Linked DNA regions of Homo sapiens. The protein of the gene in region 2 interacts with the protein of the main gene of each other region in a biochemical or structural test. Each region holds a gene or a part of one and is shown on either strand. Other genes may lie near its edges.

Region 1 (3,500 bases), on a different chromosome or scaffold from region 2:
AGAGTCCTGGACCAAAGGCAAGCTTCAGCAACTTTCTTCACCCTTAAGCCTCACTGTGTTTAAGGACGGAGCAGGACAGGACGGAGCAGGACAGGCAGGATTCAGTCAGACGTCCACCAGATGCAGGGGCTCGTGTCTGCACTCCCAACACTTTGGGAGGCCAAGGCAGGTGGATCGCTTGAGTCCAGGAGTTCGAGACCAGCCTGGGCAACATATCGAGACTGTCTCTATTAAATTAAATAAAATTTTAAATCACATGTCCATGTGGGCAGGTGGGTGTATCACCACTTTGATATGGAAATCACTTCACACCAGTTGCTAAAGAGCCCCTGACTAAGCCCTCCAGGTGACCCCTTCTCTAGGCCCTCTTATGGCCTCCAAAGTCTCTGGCCTGCCCCATCCCTGTCTGTGCCCCTGGACACGCACAGGCCCTCATGGCACTAATATGTTTGGCTCTCACTTTTGTGACTGTGATTTATTGTCTGTTCTGTGCGTCTGGATGCCTGACATCCAGTTACGCCTGCTGGCATCTCAGCCAACCTAACCCATGGGAGGACAGAGATGCTGAGAGCTGGTGAGTCCAGGTGCTGAGACCTGGTCAGTCAGACGCTGAGACCTGGTCAGTCCAGGGCTGGGATAGGGAGGCTGGGGCAGGCACTCACAAGAGGCCTCGTTGTAGTAGACGCTGATCCGCTCCAGCTGCAAGTCCGAGTCGCCCACGTAGTTGCCGCTGGGGTCGATGCCATGCTCATCACTGATGACTTCCCAGAACTGCAAACAAAGTGGGAGAGGGGGGGTCGGCACCGGCCCATAGCCCCAGCCAGGCCCTTTCCCTTGTGAAGCCTTTTAGCCCTCACTACAAAATTAGGGCTTTTGACCCACGGCCTCCACGAGCCCCATTCAGAAGAGAGCCCCACACTCTGTTACCTGTCAGAAAATTGCCATAATAAATATGCACCTCCACACCTACACGTCCAGGCCGACCACAGCCCCAGGGTGGGCCAAGGTTCAACAGACCCACACCCAGGTCCCCAGGCCCAGCTGTGCAGCTGCTGGCAAGGGCCTGGAGCAGCGGATTCCTCCATGAAGGGCATTGGTAATAAACACCTTGAGGGTTAGTTTTTACTATCCCCTCTTTTCAGGAAAGGGAACTGAGACACAGAGCGGGTAGAGACACCCACAGTAGCTGGCAGAGCAGGGTTCAGAGGCCCAGAGCTCAGGATCGCTTTTGGCTGCTACACCTGCCCCTCCATGGGAGAGCAAACCATGTCCAGTGATGGTGCCAGGACATTACTGGCCTCAGCTGACGGGACTCACAGGGACTCTGAGAGCCAGTCTCATCGGGGACCCCCAGCTGGGTCTGCAGAAGGGTCCTTGGGGTCCCAAATGGGAAGCGACTTGCCTGAGGTCACCCAGCCTGTCCGTGTGAGGCTGGCATCGTCTCAGCTCCCAGGGGTCGTCCTCTCTCTACCTGCCACCTCCACCTCTCTCCCCCTAGAGCAGGTGCCTGCAGTGCTTCTCGGACTCTGCTCCCATGACAGCTGCCGAGCGGAGCCTAGACTCAGGGGCTGGGCCTGCTGGGTTCACAGACGCTTCCCTCACCCTTCCCAGCTGTGTGACCTTGCACAGGTCACTAGGATTCCGTGTCTCAGTGTCCTCATCTGTACAATGGGCACGATGACAGGAGGTCTTTTTGAAATGAAAGTGGGTTAATCTGTGTGAGGCATATAAATGGTATATGGCAAACGTAGAACTATCTATCTGTGTGCACACGGAGAACCACACCCCTGGGTGAGAGCAAGCCCTTCAGGGAAGTTGCCACCTCATCGTGGGACACGCTCTGATGGCCGAGGCCGCTGCGTCTGGGAGCAGTGTCTGCAGGCAGCAGGCCTCCTGGGACACACGCTGGGAGGCTTCCCAGGGCTGCCTGACCTCTCCCAATGCCCCTTGCCCTTACTCCTCAGGAGTGACTTTTAGATGAGCTGACGGGTATGAAGGCCTCAAGAAACAAGGGGCTCTACATGTGAGTCATGTGCTGCAGAAGATTCCTCAAGAAAAAAGCAGGTTAGAAAACAATTTGGTGGGGCCGGGCACAGTGGCTCATGACTGTAATCCCAGCACTTTGGGAGGCTGACGTGGGAGGACCCCAGGAGTGTAGACAAAGATGCGCTTTGGAATGGAGACACAGGAGATGTGTTTTAAGATGCCTCTAGTAGGCCAGGTACAGTGGCTCATGCCTGTAATCCCAACACTTTGGGAGGCCGAGGCGGGTGGATCACGAAGTCAGGAGATCGAGACCATCCTGGCTAACATGGTGAAACCCCGTCTCTACTAAAGATACAAAAAATTAGCCGGGAATGGTGGCGGGTGCCTGTAGTCCCAGCTACTCGGGAGGCTGAAGCAGGAGAATCACTTGAACCCAGGAGGTGGAGCTTGCAGTGAGCTGAGATCATGCCATTGCACTCCAGCCTGGGCGACAGAGTGAGACACCATCTCAAAAAAAAAAAAAAGATGCCTCTCGTAAAGGGGTGACTTTAGTGGAAACTGCTGTGCAGGAGGCAGGACTGGGTGGTAGCAAGCATGAGAAGCATGAGTCTAGGAATTCATATCAAGACCCCATCTCAAAATAAATAAATAAATAGAGGCCAGGTGCGGTGGCTCACGCCTGTAATACCAACAATTTGGGAGGCTGAGGTGGGCAGATCACCGGAAGTCAGGAGTTCGAGACCAGCCTGTCTCTACTAAAAATACAAAAATTAGCCAGGGGTGGTGGCTCACACGTTCCAGCTACTCCGGAAGCTGAGGCAGAAGAATTGCTTGAACCCAGGAGACGGAGGTTGCAGTAAGCCAAGATTGCACCACTGTACTCCAGCGTGGGCGACAGAGTGAGACTCTGTCTCATAGAATAATAATAAATAAATAGAAACAAAACCACTCATAGCTGGGCACGGTGGCTCACCCCCATAATCCCTGCACTTTGGGAGGCAGAGGCGGGTGGGTCACGAGGTCAGGAGTTCGAGACCAGCCTGGCCAACATAGTGAAACTCCATCTCTCCCAAAAATACAAAAATTAGCCAGGCATGGTGGCGCGCACCTGTACTCCCAGCTACTCGAGAGGCTGAGGCAGGAGAATTGCTTGAACCCAGGAGGCAGAGGTTGTGGTGAGTCGAGATCGCGCCACTGCACTCCAGCCTGGGCAATAGTGCGAGACTGTCAGAAAGAAAGGAAGGAAGGAAGGAAGGAAGGAATGAAGGAAGAAAGAAAGGAAAGAGAGAGAGAGAGGAAGGAAGGAAGGAAGGAAGGAAGGAAGGAAGGAAGGAAGGAAGGGGAGAAAACTGCTTGTGCCAGGCACGGTGGCTCACGCCTGTAATCCCAGTACTTTGGGAGGCTGAGGCAGTGGATCATCTGAGGTCAGGAGTTCAAGACCAGCCTGGCCAACATGGCAAAACCCTGTCTCTACTAAAAATACAAAAATTAGCCAGGCGTGGTGGCGAGCACCT
Region 2 (3,500 bases):
CTTAAAATAACACAACCTGTGCTAGTAACTAAAGATTTATTATAAAAGTGAACAGAGGTAGCCACTGCAGAACCATTTTCACTGAGTATTCATTTAACTCTGGAGAACTGGATTGTCTGTGCCAAATGACTCTCATCCTGTCCAAACTACAATTCCAAATTAAGAAAAAATATTTTCTTTCATGTGATATTTCTGCTGATTTGAGCTAAAGTCAAACCCTACCATATTAATATGCTGTACATTAAAATACTAATTATTAAAAACTGCATGGCCAGGATACATGTTTTGTTCCCTTCTACTAGGAAACTTCTTTCAAAGTCCTCATCTATACAGACCATATTAAACATGCCAGTTTTACATTAATGGACTTAACCATATACCATATTACAGGAGAGCAAAATTTTTCCTATATTCAAATTTTCCCTCACTAAATGCTTCTGAAGTGTGACTCTGTATAAATTAGGATCTAAAAGGATAATCTTTTTACAACTTGGTAACATGCTTTTCATCTTATCTATGTTAGGATTATTGGCAATTTATTTTCATTTTTAGAATAACTTTTACTGGCCAGGCGCGGTGGCTCACGCCTGTAATCCCAGCACTTTGGAAGGCCGAGGTGGGTGGATCACGAGGTCAGGAGATCAAGACCACCCGGGCTAACACGATGAAACCCCGTCTCTACCAAAAATACAAAAAATTAGCCGGGTGTGGTGGCGGGTGACTGTAGTCCCAGTTACTCGGGAGGCTGAGGCAGGAGAATGGCATGAACCCGGGAGGCGGAGGCTGCAGTGAGCTGAGATCGCGCCACTGAACTCCAGCTTGGGTGACAGAGTAAGACTCCGCCTCAAAACAAAACAAAAAAAAAAGAATCACTTTTACTGAAATCCCATTCTGATTGTTTTTACAAATATTGAAGAAATTTCCAGACCTTAGTTTTCAGAAAATCAAAGCTAAGATAAACTACTCCTTCAAAAATTAAACAATTTAATCAAAGAATTTTCATGGGCCTTCTTGCCTGATTTAGTAAAAGGATTTAATCCAAAATAATACATAATATAAAAATTATACTCTATCATATAAACAAATTAGGAGGAATAAGTTAAAAACACTTTGCAATATATAACACAATTCATTTTGATTTTTGAAAAAAGGTCTAAAATATACCGTCTTGCTGTCTCCTTTTCTCCTCTCTGCGCTCTCTTGCTAATCTTTGTTTTATGTCATTTTTAAGCATGGATCCATCGATTACTAAAAAAAAAAGAATATAGTTAGATATTAATAGGATATCAAATTTTAAAGATATGACACTTTGACATCTATCAAAGCATCAGAGAAATTATACCTGGTTTAAATGTCGATCTTATATTTGAGGAATGGGTTGCAACACGATTAACCACATCTTGCTTCCTCCTTTCCTTAGCAATCTCGTTTGCTGCAGCAACTAAAATACAGGGAGATAAAAGGATTAGATGTTAAGAATACGGATAGCTAACACAGGAGTCAGCAAACCACGGCCAATTGTATTTGATGATAAAGGATAGGATCACTTCTATAAATCATGACTGATTTCATCTGGGTCAACAACAAAGATATATTGAACACCTATGATCTTCAACAACACTTTAACAAAGAATTTAAAGTGTTTACTATGATGGGCCAGGGTATTTGTAGACATAAAGATAATTGAGTTGTTAGTGGCGGTGGCAGCATAAGTTTGTGGATGAGTAGGAGCCAATGATTAATAGGTTTTAAAAATGTCTCAAACAAAACATTACACCAAGTGTTAGAAATACTGAGCTGGCGAGGAATTGGGAAAATTAAGTTTCACCATAAATTGGGAATTCAGAAGATAACAGGTTAAGAATTTATGGATCTGAATTGGGAAGCAAAGTGTTAACAGTGAAATACTCAGTGAAAGATCAGGCCCAACCAATGTTAAGGAGTACATTTATAAATTACCTAAATTAGGGGCTTTCTATCCTGGTTGCACACTGGAATCACCTAACTCACTTTTAGAAAATCAGCAATGCCTGCCTGCCCGCTCCCCATCACCAGTCTCTGGCTGTGGGGCCCAGGCATCTACAATTGTTGAGCTCTATTCTGATGCATATTGAAGGTGGAGAAATAAATATTCTTTTAGAAGAAGTAATCTCCAATGAGATGGTATCATTCTAGGTAGATGTCAAGCAAACAAATATAAATTATACAAGGTGCAAACAAACGTGTAAACAGGCAGAAAAGTGATAAACTTCAATAAGGGTGAAGTGTAAGATTAGGAAAGCACAGTATGAGGAAAAGTAAGAAAACTAAAATTCCAGGATGACACACATGAGTTATTATAGGGGAATCCCTGAACCCTTTAATTCCACACATGGCTATATCTAAAATGTCCCACAATACTGAGCATCTTCAGAAAGAGTATTGAAAATAACACTGAAAACTAACTCTGTTCTTCTTTTGTAGAAAAGCACAGGAAGTAAGCCCCTGTGATGCTGCATACAAGTCTGGTTTCTATGTATTGAGAAAAATGTAACAGTTGAAGATGGGCAGTTAAAGTAACTGAGGGAATAGAGGGGCTGTCCTTGGACTTATAAAATGAATGAACTCTGAGGTGTTAATTGCTACTGAGGGAGTTATTTTACAGCATAATCTTGAAAATGACATCACAATTGCTGCCGTAAGGATCACCATTTTTTTTTTTTTTTTTTACCCCAGAGGCCGAACAGCCCAGATAATATATGACCTAGCTTAATTTGAGGATTAGACTCTTCTCAGCTTCCTTAATAATTTAAGTACTGGCAATTCCATGGACCACAATTATTTTCTGAATTTGAGCACTAGTATATTAACAAAAATTCTTGGTCTATAGACACTCCTATATACCCACTTGCAACATTTTTATGTGAGTGCAGAGAAAACAATAAAGTACTTGTAGTATTGTTTTTACACATTCAGTTCTCCTGCTTAGAAGTCCCAAGGATAGTCCGTATTTGACACTATTTAGCTGATAATTTCCCTCAAAATCTACATTTTTGGCCCAGAGTGGTGGCTCATGCCTGTAATCCCAGCACTTTGGGAGGCCAAGGCAAGTGGATCACTTGAGGTCAGGAGTTTGGAACCAGCCTGGCCAACATGGCAAACTCCCATCTCTAAAAATACAAAAATTAGCTGGGTGTGGTGGTGCATGCCTGTAGTCTCAGCTACTCAGGAGGCTGAGCCCAAGAGTTTGAGGCTGCAGTGAGCCTTTAGCATCCCACTGCACTCCAGCCTGGGCAACCCTGTCTCAAAAAAAGTATACTTTTACCAGGCTAATTAAAAATCTTATTAAACAGAAATAACCTTAGAAGTAGCTGTGGTGAGAATAATGAACCGAATCATATAAAGGTTAATGTGGTAGTAGTATCAAATCTGATTTTTAGACCTTTGTATCCAAATTCCTACTGGTAAGAAATACATTAACAGAAAGGACAGGGTTTAAAAATTATTTAAAATGTCCAGAA

The links.
Region 1: the proteins of MAP7D3 (region 2) and TUBB3 form a complex in vitro, tested with the Homo sapiens proteins (one study listed by BioGRID).

The regions. Positions count from the first base shown.
Region 1 is NC_000016.10:89,929,842-89,933,341, reverse strand, and holds part of TUBB3 (tubulin beta-3 chain), read right to left. Parts: intron 772-3,500; coding exon 663-771; intron 1-662. UniProt on the Homo sapiens protein: Tubulin is the major constituent of microtubules, protein filaments consisting of alpha- and beta-tubulin heterodimers. Microtubules grow by the addition of GTP-tubulin dimers to the microtubule end, where a stabilizing cap forms.
Region 2 is NC_000023.11:136,244,901-136,248,400, forward strand, and holds part of MAP7D3 (MAP7 domain-containing protein 3), read right to left. Parts: intron 1,442-3,500; coding exon 1,343-1,441; intron 1,249-1,342; coding exon 1,165-1,248; intron 1-1,164. UniProt on the Homo sapiens protein: Promotes the assembly and stability of microtubules.